2 separate regions of the Homo sapiens genome follow, and region 2 is linked to region 1. The links come from fine-mapping of genetic effects on gene expression. Tissue or cell type: whole blood. Region 1 holds a variant in brackets; the other region holds the start of a gene. All regions are shown on one strand. Distances are from middle to middle. Region 1 holds the start of LOC105377340 (a long non-coding RNA gene). Region 2 holds the start of RAP1GDS1 (Rap1 GTPase-GDP dissociation stimulator 1).

Region 1 (8,560 bases):
TCATTCCTGTCTCTGCTTCCATGGTCATGTTGCCTTCAACTAACTCTGATCTCCTATTTCTCTTTTGTCAGGACTCCTACGATTATATCAAGCACACCCCAAATGAAATATCCAGATAATTCAAGACAATCTGTTCATCTCCAGATTCTCAATTTAATCATATCTAAAAAATCTGTTTTATGGTGTAAGGTCACATATTCACAGGTTCTAGGGATTCAGATATCAACATATTTGGGGAGGTGATTATTCAGCCAAACACAGAGGGTCTCTTAGAACACTAACTTTAGCAAAAGTACCAGGAAGAATTCTTATTGGCCCAGCTTGGGTAATATGCCCATCCCCAAGACAATCACTATGGCCAAGGGGGTGATGTTGATGGTCAGACAGCCTAATCTGCATGACCACTCCTGAAGGATGTAATGAGAATGCTGTGACAACGGTCCCACTGGGTCTATATGTATTTGGAGAGGGATGGCTTTCCAAAGGAAGAGTTGCTATTACCAGAAGAATAAAGAAGGGATTATGAGCAGACTCCCCTCTCCCCTCACCAAAAAAAAAAAAAAAAAAAAAAAAACCCGCACAAAAAGCAGAGGCACACTACGAATTCCCATTAGAACAACACTGTCAATACTCTGGTAATAATAACAGAACTGTTCTTATTTGAAAATTCCATGTATGAGGATGTATACCTGTCTATATGTTTTTGGTTTGGACCAAAAAAGCAACGAATAAGAATGCGAGATTTAAGGTCAGACAGACCTGGATTTATAGCCTGACTCTACCCTTTCTAGCTGTGTAACATTTTAGACATGTTATTGAAATTTCCTGATTTTCAGATGCCTCACAGGTAAAATAAAGTTGCTTACTATATTGGACACGGATATTTGTCATGTTTTCTGACTACCCAGCATATTTTGAAAACAATTTTACCATACTGGAAAATCCTCAGTCTTTAGAGTCCCGCTTCCACAAAGTAGAATGCAGAAAACTGAATTCTCAGCCTCTCTTACTGCTGGGCCTAGGAATATGACAGTGACTTTGACTTCTCCTGTGAGATTCACACATGTAAGAATTTGACAGGTAAGTAACGGAGTTTATGTGGACTGTTTTAAAATCTTGCATACAAGAAGAAGGCTCCAGTCAGAATCCATTTTTCTGGTACAGTGGACAACAATGCTGCCGTCTTGTGGTGGTAGCAACAACACTGTATGCAGTTTAGTTTCTCAGTGATTTCAAGGTCAAGTTCCAGGCACAGATGTGGCCCAGGCAGGGAGTTGAGAGTTGGCAACACCTTCCCTAGTGCTCTGTGGGACAGCAAGAGAAGCAGCAGTTTCCTCTCCGCGCCAACTTTGCCATGTGATTTTCAGAATTGTTCCTAGGAGCTTAACTTCAAGTCTAGCTCTCCAGGCCTCCAAATGCTTCTGTGAGCTAACCAATAGTCTTTTTTTCAAAACTCCCTTTTCTGCTTCATCGGCTAAAGAGAGTTTGCTTCAGTTAAGTAATATTAACAGTGATGAGGCCGGGCGTGGTGGCTCACAGCTGTAATCCCAGCACTTTGGGAGGCCGAGGCAGGTGGATCACAAGGTCAGGAGATCGAGACCATCCTGGCTAACACGGTGAAACCCCATCTCTACTAAAAATAGAAAAAATTAGCCAGGCGTGGTGGCAGGCGCCTGTAGTCCCAGCTACTCGGGAGGCTGAGGCAGGAGAATGACGTGAACCCGGGAGGCGGAGCTTGCAGTGAGCCGAGGTCACGCCACTGCACTCCAGCCTGGGCGACAGAGCCAGACTCCATCTCAAAAAAAAAAAAAAAAAAAAAAAAAAAAAAGTGATCACTATATATTTATCTCAGAGAGTGATGTTGCAATTAAACAAAATAAGATATTGTTATGCAAAAAAGGACCAATGGCCAGTCAGTACACATACCAGATCTGCTAGAGCAAAATTTACTGGGGAAAATTCATGAAGACAGGAGCAGTAACAAGCATGCAGTCCCCTGTTGCATTGTAAAGTGGAACACAGAGTGCTAGCATGGTCTAATGTCACATTCTGGGATAGGGCCCCTAATCCCCGGTGTGCGGACTTTTGCCTGTTTGGAAGCATTGTCTCCTACTCTCAGGCGATCAGGGACCAGGATACTATAACAAGATGACATTGCAAAACTTTGGCTCCAGCCCTAGTCTGTGAACTCAGCTTTCATATTTGCAGCAAACATGAGCCCTTCCCCTGGCATAATCAGGAGCCTAAGGGCAGGTCTTATGGTTGACCAGGATTCACTGCCTCGATGTTTGGCTGTGGCCAGTTTTCATACAGCTTTGTAGAAGGTCAATTCCTTTTCTTTTTTTGGAGGCCACAGGGGAATCATATTTGGGCAAGTTAATTCTTACCTCCTGGACTGGGTTGAATAGTGTTCCCCCAAAATTCATGTCTACCTGGAGTTTCAGAATGTGTCCTTATTTGAAAATAGGGTCAGGCCAGGCACGGTGGCTCATGCCTGTAATCCCAGCACTTTGGGAGGTCAGGGCAGGTGGATCATGAGGTCAGGAGTTCAAGACCAGCCTGGCCAATATGGTGAAACCCCCGTCTCTACTAAAACTACAAGAAAATTAGCTGGGCGTGGTGGCGCGCACCTGTAGTCCCAGCTGCTTGGGAGGCTGAGGCAGGAGAATTGCTTGAACCTGGGAGGCAGAGGGTGCAGTAAGCTGAGATCGTGCCACTGCACTCCAACCTGGGTGACAGAGTGAGACTCTGTCTCAAAAAAAAAAAAAAGAAAAAGAAAAAGAAAATAGGGTCTGTGCAGATGTAATCAACTTATGAATAGGTCACCTGTAGGAGACAGTTTCAACATGCTGACAGCTTACCACCTCAAATGTTGTGTGTCTCTTCTCTGCCTTAGGGTTTTTTCTGGGACTAACTGTGGGAGTCTGCTCCACCCAAGTCACTCAAAGCAACAACAATCAATATGAGTTTGAAGTAGATGGATAAATGCCCCAAGCTTTCTAGCCTCCCACAGGACAGTTTTAAAGCATTTGAGAGACTCTCTCTCTCTCTCTCTCTATATATATATATAGACAATGGCCAGACCATATATGAAAATAGAACTCTGACCTACAATCTGTAGCAAGCACCCTAGGAAATCATACCATATCTACAGAAAGCTAGGATATTATCTGTAAGTCAGATTTGTAGGAAGTCAGACCACTATCTCCAGAAATCAGTCCAGTAAGTCAAGCAATAATCCCTATAACAATTGGCCCAAAATGGCCAGGACTCGATTAATAACTGACAGCTTCCCTAATTTTTGTCCCAGCTTCCAAATTAGGACCAGCCAGAGAAAGCCAAATATGCACCCCAATCAATCACACAGAAAGCCCCAAATCTGTTTAGCCTACCTATAGCTTTCTTAAGCCAACAGCTTCAAATCAGGGCATACCTGAAACCTTCTCTTTTTACCACTATAAAGCTTTCCACTCCTATGCCTGCCTCTACCAAACACAAGTGATGAGTCTCTACCAAAACACAAGTGATGATGCCTGACTCTCTTGCTATATCAAGGTCTGAATATATGCTTTGTCTGTTCTCATTTGGTCTTCATTTATTTCCATATATGGCATACACACTTTCTCTGGGGATCCCAACAAAATTAAGCCCCAGTTGCCCACTACTGTACTTTGCTCATTCATGCACTTTTTATTGGCTTTCCCTGCTTCTCTATCTTGGTTTGGTTTCCTCAATTTGCCTGCCATGAGGAATTATCTCCTGAATATACCATCTGCACCTAAGCTCTTGTTTCAGGGTCTGTTTTTGAGGAAATACAATGAAAATAGACCATATTAATGGAAGCACAATTTTAAGAATATTATATATTAACCTTGAATATTTCCCATAAAAAGAGGCATTTAAAACTAAAATTCCAAAGTGACTGCATCAACCATTGTTTTCTTCTAGTCAAAATGTTAAAATACTGAATATTACTTTTTAAATGTTGGTATTATTCCAATGGCTTTCTATGCCATTAATGTATTTGGCATATGTTTTTTATTTTCTAAAAAATGTTGGCAAAATTCCCTAAAGGGAATAGTCATTTAAATTTTTTTTTTAATTTTTATTTATCCCACATGTTAGATATGAGTTCTAAATTTCTTTTCAAAGAATCAATATATCAGTATGTTCAGTTCTTTGCCTTCTACTTTTAAACTTAACTTCCACATAAAGCAACCTTTTTTGATTACCTGCTCCACCCTGACTCATTTCAATCACCTGCCCCACCTTGACTCATTCCGATTACCTGCTACCTGCTCTGCCCTAACTCATTCTCTACTCTGCATAACCGTTTTTCCCGCCAAACCATGCACCCCATCACTGTCTTTAAATTAGCCAGTTGGAATTAGTTTAGCCTGTGCGGCCTAACCCGAGCCAATAGGGGAATGACACAGCAGCAGGGGCCACATGCGTCAGGCATAAGAACCCCTTCCCTCCCTTGTCCAAGTGTGCGCTCACCATTGCTCCATCTGTAAGGGTGCACCCTTCTATAGAAGTACCTTGCCTTGCTGAGAATTAAAAGAAAATTTTATATTCAAGTGCTATTTCTTTTGCGGCACCGAAACTTTATTTATAACACACAGGTAAAGGTTTAATGTGTGACTGTACTAAAAATAGGACTGAAATTTGAGAATGCATTTAAAGGAGAAACAATAATATTCAATAATATTCTACTGGTTGGAATATAGCTTATAAGAAAAGCTAATTACATTTACAGAGTAGTTGAAAATCTTGGACTTAGAATATATGAATGATATTCATTTGAATAAATTAAGAGAATTGAAGCATCTTTCTTGCAAAGTGATCCAGTTACATTTAGTGAGGGAATATTCATGTTTAGGCTCAGTGTCTCTGGAAACCTAAAAAAACTAGAGCACATTTGCCCTGCAGGCTCTAACTTGGAAATTCAATTACGATTTATTGATAAAAAGACTGCACCAGTGAAAATATGTTATCCTAATTTAGGAATCAATAAGCATTTCTGTGATTTTTATGCACTACAAATTATATACTTTAATTTATGCCTATCTGATGTCCAAGTATGTTGGTAAATGAGATGCCTAAAACAACATGTGGAGTTAGAATATAATTATGTTAATGCTAAAAAAAGGTGGCATTTGTATTCTAACCATAACAGAGCTTATGTGGACTGTTTTAAAAACTTGAGCACTAGGCCCATTACAGTTTCATAGTGTCCCTTCTGTCTGTCATCTTTTACACCTGGCTGATCCTCCCACACACCATAAAGACAAAGTGAAAGCACCAAGAGAAGTTTTAGGCAATTACCTCCACA[G/C]ATTTCCATTTCTCTCTCTCGAAACTCTCATCTCCGTCTGGCCTGCTCTGATTTTTGATGGCCTGCATGTGTAATAGAGTTCCAAGTGAGGCTGAATTTAGAACGCTGAGTGACAAGCTGGCAGCATGTACTGCTTTACGTACCTGTAGCCTATCCTCTTGGAGATTTTCTCTCTTTTGCTCTTAGTTGTGTAAGATGTTAGGCACCTGTTCTCTTGGGGGGAAGTCTCATAACCTGATGTTTGTCAAGATTTCTTGGTATGCAGAGCTTGCCTCTAGGGTAGGGTGTGGAAAATTTGCATACTAATGAAGGAGCCACTTGGAGAAAAAAATGAGTGAAGATCTGAACAACTAACTTCCCTTTTGAGGTTTAACGTCGTTAGAAAATTTCTGACAGATTGAGGTGGTTCTGCTCAAGATTTTTAATTGGAAAATGGCATCAAAGGTTTTGAAATAGAAGTCTCCCTCAGTGCTTTGGGCTTAAGACCCATCCAACTCACGAACCTAGCCATCTAGAATAAGCAGTTTTGGTTAAAGCACATGTGAGAAGTGAGAAGTTCCTAAGCTACTTCAATTCCTAAGAAACTAGCACATAGTCAGTTTTGGAGATCCAAGGCTAAACGTGTGTCTGTATAAACTTGAAACCAAACTATGGTATAACTGTACAGTGCTGAAGAGATCTGAACAAAGAAAGGATATCATTGCAGCAGTAATAAATAGGCGTTCCTTAGACTGCAAAACAAGTGCTTGGTAGAAAAACCAAGTACAATAACAGAAAACCTCTGATGCTAAAGGCCTTCATATAATTTTCAGTTCTCTTTCTTCACTTCTTTTTATGAATAGTTTTTTGTGGGGAGGCCACAGTAGGCAGACATTGACGTTTCTGCAAATACAAGAATGAGATTGCTAATAGATATAGACCAAACTGGTAAATAAAAGTTGTGGTTTCCAGATCTGCTCAGTTTTAGAGTTTCGGCAGACTCCCTGTATTCTTGTGTCTCTGAGTATAAGCTGCGTATATTGCAAAACTTAGATAAGAGTTCTGTTGATTCCGTGGGAGCATAAAAATTGAGCAGAAAAATAGAGTTAATTTATTTTTTAAAAATCCACATAACTCAAAGTATTAGAAAACAAAATGAATTAAAACATAGAAATCAGTATGTAGATTTACAATGTAGCCTGGTTTGGCCAGGGGCAGTGGCTCACGCCTGTAATCCCAGCAGTTTGGGAAGCCAAGGTGGGTGGATCACCTGAGGTCAGGAGTTCGGGACCAGCCTGACCAACACGGAGAAACCGCATCTCTACTAAAAATATAAAATTAGCCGGGCATGGTGGCGCATTCCTGTAATCCCAGCTACTCGGGAGGCAGAGACAGGAGAATCGCTTGCAACTGGCAGGTGGAGGTTGCGTTGATCCAAGATCACGCCATCGCACTCCAGCCTGGGCAACAAGAGCGAAACTGCGTCTCAAAAAAAAAAAAAAAAAAAAAAAAAAAAACCCAAAACACAACAATGTAGCCTGTTTTACAAGTCTCAAAGTATTTCGGTGGCCAGTAGGAAGTTGGCTAACTGGGAAAGATGCTGAGATACAAGATTGGCTGAATGGTAAGATAAGGCATTCTTAGTTTTGGAATGGGGAACTGGGAAGTAAGATGAGATCTAGACCCAAAAAAAAAATCAAATATAGCCAGAAACGTAAACTGATGTCTTAACTCTGTGCTTTTAAATCAGTTTCACACTTCTATTCCATATGTGCCTGGTACCCAGTTTAAAAAAAAAGAAAAAAAAAACCCTCTGGACAAAAATGTGTTGGAAAATAAAATGAAAGAAAGCATCCCATTTACAAAATCAGATTTCATAATTAAAATACTTAGGAGTAAAAACTGAGAATCTACTTGGAGAAAAAATTAGGGAATTTTTAAAACTTTAAATAAATGGAGATATGCTTTGATCTGGTATAGAAAGACCAATCTTATAAACATGAAAATTCTCCCAAAGTTTAATAAGTTGATTCAGTGTAATCCCTAACAAAATTCCAAAGAGTTGTCTTCTTTTATTTTTTGATTTGCAAAAATAATACTAGAGCTCACCTATAAAAATAAATGTGTGAATAAAGACAGAAAATTTCTTAAAAAGAAAATTAATATGGGGAAAATATTTCTATCAGGTATTAATATGTGTAGAGCTTTAATATTAATGAATGTTATTAATAGCCAAAGAACAGGCAGATTTGTGAAACTAAAGCATTCAGAAGTAAGCCCAAAAACAAATAGGAATTCAGTGCATTAATAAATATATCTCCTTAAATTACTGAGAGAAAATCAGTTGTTCAACAGACCAATATTGAAAAACTGGGCATGAATCCCAGATATGTAAATATTTGATTGTAAAAATGAAATAATAAGAGAACTTAAAGAAAAAACAGAGAATTTTTTTTTTACAACCTTAGACTAGGAGGCTTTTAACAGGAAGACTGAAAATCCGAAGTCACTAAGGAATAGTTTACATTTGACTGCATAAAAACTAAGATCTCCTGTAAGACTAAGTGCCTGTAAGAAAAAGAGAATCTTACTACAAAGACAAAATACAACAAACCACCTGAAGAAAACATTATTTGCAACATATGACAATAAAATCTTAATTTCTTTAATATACAAATAAGACTTGCTAATCAATAAGAAAAAAGGCAATCAAATAGACAAAATAAATGGCATGGTCTATAGACCTGTAGATCAATTTAAAATACTTACTTCACTAAGAAATGAGGCAGGCACAGAAAAAGTCTCCTTCATGAGTCTTAATTCTAGTAGGAAGGCTAACAGTTAGCTGGTGAATACTTGTATAGCCATACTAGTTGCTTATGACTTGTGCTTACTCTTATTGGTCAATGCCCACACCCCTTTTAGTTGTTAAATATTTTAGGTATCGTCACTGCTGGCAGAGTGTAGGCAGACAATAAACCAATAAGAATGTATAGCAGAGTTTCTCAACCTCTGCAGTATTGACATTTAAGAATGGATAATTCTTTGTGTGAGAGGCTGTCCTGTGCATTGTAGGATGTTTAACAGCATCCCTGGTCTCTACCCACTAGATGCCCATGGTAGCAATCACCCTCCCCACTTGTGAAAACCAAACATATTTTTAGATATTGCCAAATACCTCTCTCCCCTGTTGACAACCACTGATATATGGATAACATTTCAGGTAGAGTGTTATGAAGAAGAATA
Region 2 (8,560 bases), 59 kb after region 1:
GTTAGCCAGGATGGTCTCGATCTCCTGACCTCGTAATCCACCCGCTTCGGCCTCCCAAAGTGCTGGGATTACAGGCATGAGCCACCGCGCCTGGCCCTTATAGCTGTTCTTTTATAGCATCTAGCACAGTGCTGAGCTCAGAAGAAATGTTCAATAACTACATGACTGATTTTAAAGTGGTATATCCCATCTAAAAACTGTATGTAATCTAGGTCTGTTGTTGCTTGAAACATGTAGACATTAGTTTGAGGTGACAGCCTATGAAAATAATTTAGATTTTACAACATTTAGAAAATGGCTAAAATATTAAATAAATGGAGAGCGGGGGAGAAAGAGGTTACATTGAGGTTAAGACATTTCAGTTGTTCAACCTGGACTAACTTGATCTCACCAATGAAGTCTCTGAAAAATAAACAGTTTAGGCAGAAGGCTGTTCACTGCCAAATCATTTTCTATCACCGCAAAGTTCAATTAACTACTCCAGTGAAATTCCCTTAAATGATATTCAGAACATCATGGTGAACAGGAGGCAATCAGTTCCCTATTATACTTTTAAAGAACATTCTCTCCTCTCTTTCCACTTCTTGTTGTGTTGCCCCTCCCAATAGATTTCCTCTAAAGAATTTAAATCACCTTCTAACCTCTTTAAGCTTACATGCATCAATGAGGTAAGTTATAAGTCTTGCCAAAATGTACTGCTTCTGATCTTTTCTAAAAGACATTTTCCTTGATACTCCCCCATAACAGCTATTTAGTAATCATAAACCAATTTTCAACAGAAATTGTTATTCAAATAAATCCGTGATACTTTATAAATATGACATTTCCTAGATTGAAGTTGAAAACCTTTGCACTGGGCCAGAACTTCCTTTGTTTTGTAGCAGGCCTGATAAAATCCTGACCATTGCCTAACATACAGTATGGGTATTAGTAGATCGATTTTGGAAGAGTCTCTTGACATCAGGGATGTCAAGAGATGTAGATATAAGGTGTTGCTATCTTGTACTGGCTGCTCTCAGAATCCTGACCTCAAGTGATCCTCCCTCCTCGGCCTCCCTAAGTGCTGGAATTATAGGTGTGAGCCACCATACCTAGCAAATTTTTATTAAGCACTTGCTATGTGCTAGCACTATTTAGGCACGGGGGTTATAATGGTAAATACAGCAGACAAAAATTATTTCCCTAGGAGAACTTACATTTAAATGTGGGAGACAGTCCAAAAGCAAAATATATATTATCTTATTGATAACTGCTAAGGAAAAAAAATAAAGTATAGAAGTGGGGATATGAAATGGGAAGGAGTGTTGAAATTTTAGATAAGATAACTAGGGAAGACATCATGCAGGTAACTTTTGAATAAAGACATAAAGGAAGAAAGTAAAGATATGAGACAGAAACATTATATTCTTATAATAGAACAAGAAAGGAGAGGGGAAGGGAGGTGGCATTGTGTGTGCAAGGAGTAGGCAATATACCAGTCTGGAAGTAATTCACTTCTGCATATAACAATCAGTATTGGTTCTCACTATGGTTACAACACCGGTGCATTAGGACTCAGTATATGCACTAAGCCTGAACAATCCTTTGGTTTTAATTGGCAGGAAGGCTAAGGAGATGGCTTGTAGATTGAAGTAGAACAAAAAAGGCACTTTAACTAGTGTCAGATGGGAAATGAGAAAGCCACTTCAGCTGCTTTTGCTAATTTCAACGCTTACATCCAAATAAATGATAGAAGATACTCCATGAAATTATTATAATATGTAATTAGATAAGGAAGTAGGAAAAATAAAGCAAGTTAACTTGACAATCTGGAAGAGATTAATGAGTGTTAAGGAGAGATGAACAAAAAATGATGAGCAGCAATGCAAAGGCCCAGGCTGGTCTTCTGGAGGAGTAATAAAATTAATGTGTAACATGGCCGATGTGGGGGCAGTGAGGGGCCCTGAGGGTGGGGTCTGCATTGGTGTATTATGGGTTGAATTGTGTACCCCTCCCGGATTCTTTTTTTTTATTTTTATTTTTTTTGAGACAGGGTCTTGCTCTGTGGCCCAGGCTGGAGTGCAGTGGTGCAATCTCAGCTCACTGCAACCTCCGCCTCCCGGGTTCAAGCGATTCTCCTGCCTCAGCCTCCCAAGTAGCTGGGATTACAGACACGTGCCACCATGCCCAGCTAATTTATTTATTTTATTTATTTTTTAGTAGAAATAGGGTTTTGCCATGTTGGCCAGGCTGATCTCCAGCTCCTGACTTAAGTGATCTGCCCTCCTGAGCCTCCCAAAGTGTTAGGATTACAGGCGTGAGCCACTGTGCCTGGCCCTGGCTAATTTTTTGTATTTTTAGTTAGAGATGGGGTTTCGTCATGTTGGCCAGGCTGGCCCTATTCATATGTAGAAGTCCTAACCCTTAGTCCCTTAGAATGTGACCTGATTTGGAAATAGGGTCATTGCAGATATAATTAACGTCCATGAGGTCATACTGGAGGATGGTTCGCCCCTAATCCGTTATGACTGCTGTTCTTATTAAAAAGGGAAATTTGAACACACAAGCACACTGGGAGAACAGCCATGTTCAGATTGGAGTTACGCTACCATATGCCAAGAAACTACCAGAAGCTAGGAGAGGCATGGACGAGATCCCTCCCCAGTGCCCTCAGAGGGAGTACAGCCCTGCCTACACCTTGATTTCAAACTTCTGGCCTCCAGAATTGTGAGATAATAATTTGTTGTTTTAAGTCACCCAATTTGTGGTATGTTACGGCAGCCCTAGGGAACTAATGTAGTGCGATTATTTTAAGAGGCAAACAAGAAGAACATCCTAAGAGTGAGGTGCCTGATAGTCTCATGCATCAGAAAAGTCCCATATATTTGACTTCAGCAGTTAAATTGTATTTTCCTGTTTTACCAAACCTTTTTAATTATCGTTTCTTGCTGTAGAAAAATCACATAAAATCTGCTCTTTGCTTAACAAATTACAGGGTCGCTTCTGATTTGTGTGCTCGAAATACTAGTCACCAAGCAGAAACTGATGACTGTGAGAATAGGCGACTAATTAACAAACAAACAAAAAAAGCCCTTTCTCAACATTGGATTGACCGAGTGAAAGTTGACAGGGGAAAGACACCTCGATTCAGCCATCTTTCTCCAACAGGTTGTACTGCTGACTGCACAGTGTCCCCTGAAGGACTCCGGTCGCTGTAGCCTTGGAGAGCGACCAGATTCCTCACCCCACTCAGGAGGAGCCAGGGCAAGATTAGGGTGCAGAGAAATCGGTTTCCTCCAGCCTCCTACCCCAGGGAAGAGGACCGAAGCCAGCCCCGGCCTCACGTGCATGCCCAGTCGGGAGGACGCCCTCAGTGGGAGAGCCCTGCTCAGGTTCTCCCCGAGGCCGAGGTGGTGGTGGGAGCGGGCGGTGGCCCCGGGATCAAAGGACCTCCGCCGGGTTAGCTTTGGCAGTGCCGCAGCCAACCCAGCAGGACGCTTATTTTCAAGCCTGGGGAACGTAGTTCCTCCCGCTTTCACAGCAGGATGGAGCCCGACGGCACCCCGGTTAAAGGGCCTTTCCAGAGCCCTCCGGGGAACGGAAGGCCGCGCTCCTCCGGGAGGGAGAACGACACACTCTTCGAGGAAATCCTGGGGCGGGCGCTCTCCTCGCTGCCGGGACCTTTGTTTCTAAGCTGGCCACAGCTAGAGCAGCCTTAAGTGTCCCAATGACACGCCTGCTATCGAGCGCCCTCCCGGCGGCCCCTCCTCAGCCAGCTGCCCAGCGGGCGTCCTCAGGTGTCCCCAAGAGGCGCAGGCCTAGTCGCCTACACGTCCTTTCCAACTTCGTCAGCTCTGGCTTCCCACCACCCCTCCCGGCTCTGCGGCGGCCCAGCCTCTTCTCCGGTTAATTCCGGCCTGTGCGGCCCGGTCGTCCCGTAAAGAAGGCAAGCCCGGGTTCCGGGTGAGGGGTTGGTGGGTCAGGGTGGGAAAGCAAGGCAGCGGTGAGTCCTCTGCTAGCAGATCGGGCTCAATATCCCCATTCCCTGTTTTCTCCGGGCCCGCCCTCCGCCTCTCAGGCGGCCGCCATGAAGATCCTCTGCCGCGGCTGCAGCCGGTCTGCAAACACACGCCCACCCGCACGCTTAGCCTCGCTCGCCACAGAGGGAGGGGTGGAAAAGGCACTGAGCATGCTCGGTGGGGAGGGCGGGGCGCTCGTGGGCTGCGAGTCGGGGCCGGAGCTCTTCAGGCCGGCTCCCGCGCCTCCGCCGCCCGCCCGCTCGGAGCCGCGCCCGCCGCAGGCTGCGCCCGCCAGTCCCGCCCCGCCCCGCCCCGCCCCGCCCCCCGCCGCTCGTCCCCGCCGCGGCCGCGCCGCCTGCAGCAGCACCAGCTGCTCCTCCCCGGCGGCCGCCCCCCGCGGGTCCCTCCCTGGCTGCGGGAGAGACGGAGGTAGAGGGAGGACACAGAGCCGCGCCGCCCGCACCACAGACCTTCGCCTCGCCCCGCCGGTTCCTCACCCTCGGGGAGCAACATGGGTAAGTCATCCTTCCTCCGCCGTCATCGCCTGACATTTTTTTCTTTCTCGGCGTGCTGCAGGGTGGGAAGCATTTCTCGCGCAAAGTTGCCGGATTTCTCCAGTCCCCGGGTGTGAGACGGTGGCTGTTCCTCCGGGGAGAGTCGGCGCACGCGGAACGCACGCCGGGTGCCGGGGCTGGGAGGGTCCCGAGCGCGGGCTGGGGTGGGGTCGGCCGCGGGCCGGACCGCCGCCCGGCTCCCCGGCACCTCGCAGCCTCGCCTCCCCTCCTCCATTCTTCCTGCCGGTGCCCGGGCACCACGGAGCCTGCCTCGCGGGCTCGCATCTGCAGCTCCATCCCCGTTTCTCCAGAGGCCGCCCGCTTCCTTTTCCCCCGCGTGTACTGAGCTCGAGGCTCGGGTCCGACCACTACCACTTCGTGTAACTTCCTTCTCTGTCAGTGCGACCTTTCCCCGTCGTGGAGACTCCTCATCCCGGGCGGGGAAGTGGAAGCAAGTAGTTTGTGAGGGAGATCTTACAACCTGCACGGAAATTATTTTCCAAGGGGGAGAGCGGACAGCCTCATAGGTTGAAAGGATGACTTGTCAGAGGCCACGAGGAACGTGAGGCAGGATAGAGCCGCTAGCTGTTGAATTAGTGCTGGGTGACTACAGTGTGCAATATTCCCGTGCCCAGCCTATTTTCTGGATTCCTTCGTCCGTCTTCTGTAGCAGGAAACTGCGCCCTGTAACGTTGTTACCGAACTTACATGGTAGTTATTCTTTCCCAGCTTCCTCCTGTCTAATCTGCATAATCTGATTTTAGTTCCTTTGTATTTATAGTTAATCTGAAGAGATTGGTTTGGATGAGAGATTTAAGAGCAAATATGTTTTATAAAACGATATATACATTTGACCTAATTTTTTTACATCATCTATTGCTTAACTGTTACATTCAGTAATCACAGAAACGTCTGATGAATGCTGTCATGTAATTAAGAGCTCAAAGTTTCTTTTAATAGTAGCGACTTGTACTAAGTTCCCCAGTTTGCTTCCACTCCTGTCTGTCATAATTTCCTCTTTTTAAAATTTGCTCCCTTGGCATCTGTCAGCTGGGACTTTTCCCACCCCTTCTGTGCGAGTTATTTAAAGCTTGAGATGAATGTGGTCCTTTCATCTGTTAATACAGTGCTCAACACGTTCAGAGTTAGGTGGTGCAACTCAGAATCTTCAAGAAGTATCTAAACCTGGGAATGGTGTCCATAGAGTTTTCTGGAACAGCAAATGCTTCAGGCTTTGATCCCGACCTTTGGCCATATATCTGGAAGAGGCCAGGGTTGACGGAGGAGGTGGTATGAATCAAAAAAGGTCTAGGGCTCTGAATTTTATTTTCAGTTGTTTTTTCTTTTTAACGTGAGTACTCGATATGCTGAACAAATTTCTGTAAAAATTGGGTGGCCCATTTATGCGTGTCTGCCTTTCTCTTAAAGTAGATTTTTAAATAGGTATTATATCAGATTATTGGACAAGCTGTATATTTCCGTCGAACATACACACGTTTATGTGTGTTCCCTTTGAACATACACAGATAAAATACACTTTGAAATAAAATTCCTTTGAACATACATACACAGATAAGTGTGTGTATGTTCAAAGGAAATATACAGTATGTCCAATAACCCTATCTGATATTGGACTGTAAGTTCAAGTTTGGCTTGCAAAATATATTTTCCCATGTTTCCAGGTGAGCCTTAAACAATCCATTTAACATTTTAGCTTACATGTTAAATCCGTACTTTTTCAGTGGAAAAAATCCAATTCCGTTACAACACTGGTGAATAAAAATACCTAAAAGAAATTATCTACTTAAAAATAATCTTCAAAATCTTGAGTGCTATTGCTTGATTTTTAAAAAGGGCCAAATAGAAACCTATCTCTCATTTTGAAGCCATCTCTGATACTCTTTGGTTAATCTGTCTCTTCATAAGCACTGTTTGTACCTTGTTAGAAGCTTTTTAGCACTTACGTAATCTACCATATAATAAAGTTGTTTATGTGTGTGCTGTGCATTTAATCATGAGTCCCAGAAGATGAAAAGTGTCTTATTATTTTTTGTGTTCCCCACAGTGCTTTTCAAATAGAAATTCAGTAAATCTTTGGCAAATTGTTGAACTTAAAGCCACCTATTATTTTCAACTTTTGAACCTGAAGATATAGTCTTCATCTGAACAAACATTTGGGTTGGTACATATTATCTAGTTGGGGGATAAGCAGAAACAGAAAGGTATAATTGTACCATGCCTCCCAGTACACTGTAGGTTGGTTTTGAGTCAACCTCAGGCAATCTGTTTCCTTCTAAACTCTCTTCAATGGTAAGGCAGTTTCATGTATGATCAGTAGGTACATATGATAATTTAAAATTGAAACCTTGGGGAACAGTTTTATATCTGGGCCAAGGAAGTTAGTATAACAATTCATGTACACATAAGAAGGTAGAAGGTATACTGGTTAATGATGAGGGGAGGGAGAAGTGCTTTTTAATTTGTCTCAAGAAATAAATAAGGTTGATTTTTAAAGATAGTCTCAGCCGGGCGCGCACTTTGGGAGGCCGAGGCGGGCGGATCACCTGAGGTCAGGAGTTGGAGACCAGCCTGACTAACATGGTAAAACCCTGTCTCTACTAAAAATACAAAAAAACAATTAGCCGGGTGTGGTGGCGGGCGCCTGTAATCCCAGCTGTTTGGGAGGCTGAGGCAGGAGAATCACTTGAACCCGGGAGGCGGAGTTTGCAGTGAGCCGAGATCATGCCATTGCACTCCAGCCTGGGCAACAAGAGGGAAACTCTGTCTCAAAAAAAATATATATATATATTCTCATGGCAATAATTTCCTACACAAGAGAGTGAAAGAAAAGTCCTATATAACTTTATGGCCATAGCTACTATTTTATGTATATGTCATATTTCAGATTCAACATACATTTAGTGTTTGTTGGATATCAACTGTGCAGTGTACTGTACTACAGTGTACTGGGAGGACAAAGATAAAAAGATATTCATGTTTCACATTTATAATCTTAGCAGGAACAATATGACACATACACAAATTATAATAGAAGTAAAAGTATAAGTTATATAAAAGACCTTTACATATATTATAGATTCAGAGAATGGAGAGAACGTTTTAGAGAAATGGTGTTATTTGAACCAAAGGTGGGTTAAACTTCTTAAAGGTAGAAATGAGACTGTTAATCAGAATGGAGTTGGTCTGGGGTTGGAAGAGAAATGACATAAATGAAGATAGATAGGAAACATTTTATGAATTTCCAGGATATGATTAAACAGCATTGTTTGGCTAGAGCAAAAGGTAAGGAAATAGTGGGTAACAGACATGAAAAAGTAGTACAGTAATAGCTAATGACCAGATAATGTAGGATCTAAAATGCCAAGCTGAAGAATTTTAATCTGACTTACCTATTGAGAGACCACTAAACATTTTTATGTAGTTAAGTGATGGATCACATCTGTGGTATAGGAAAATTTGTCAGTTGAGTGCAGGATCGATTAGATGAGAAACTACAGAACACTTCAGAAGATTGTTGTTGGAGTTTGGACGAAAATGTTTAATGGCTTGAACCAGGTTATGGCAACGGGAATAGAATATTGCAAATAAAGAATAGGATTTACTTGGCAACCCATTGAGTATGGAATTGAGAGTCACAGGTTTTAGCCTGGGTGATAATGAGGATACGAGAATCTCCTGATACATATTCAGTTAACAGGAAGAGGAAACTTAGATACTCAATTTTGGACCTATTGCATTAGACTTTTTGGTCTGTCCTTTAGTCTCTGCTCCTTGATAACAAGGACGTTGTCATATTAGGATTTGAATACATTTCTAACACTAGTGTCTGGCACATAGTAGCTACATAGAAAAATTGTGTTGACTGACTGAAACTAGATAAAAAATAGTTGACAAACATTTATTTTAACTTTCGAGAGTACAATTTGAATTAGAGATCTGGAAGTTATCCACAAATATCCTGAGGTGATATTTGAAGTTAGATCAGAG

Evidence for each region.
Region 2: RAP1GDS1 starts here. The variant in region 1 is fine-mapped to the expression of RAP1GDS1 in whole blood (TOPMed, PIP 0.99).

The regions. Positions count from the first base shown.
Region 1 is chr4:98,198,222-98,206,781 of GRCh38, forward strand. LOC105377340 (a long non-coding RNA gene) reads right to left here and starts at 5,910. Exons shown (of 4, transcript XR_001741771.2): 1 at 5,479-5,910. RefSeq lists an enhancer at 5,829-6,550. The variant G/C (reference allele first, on the strand shown) is at 5,336.
Region 2 is chr4:98,257,057-98,265,616 of GRCh38, forward strand. It overlaps RAP1GDS1 (Rap1 GTPase-GDP dissociation stimulator 1), which reads left to right and starts at 4,328. Exons shown (of 15, transcript NM_001100427.2): 1 at 4,328-4,513. The coding sequence starts at 4,510. RefSeq lists enhancers at 3,569-3,868, 3,620-4,182 and silencers at 4,149-4,448, 4,549-4,618.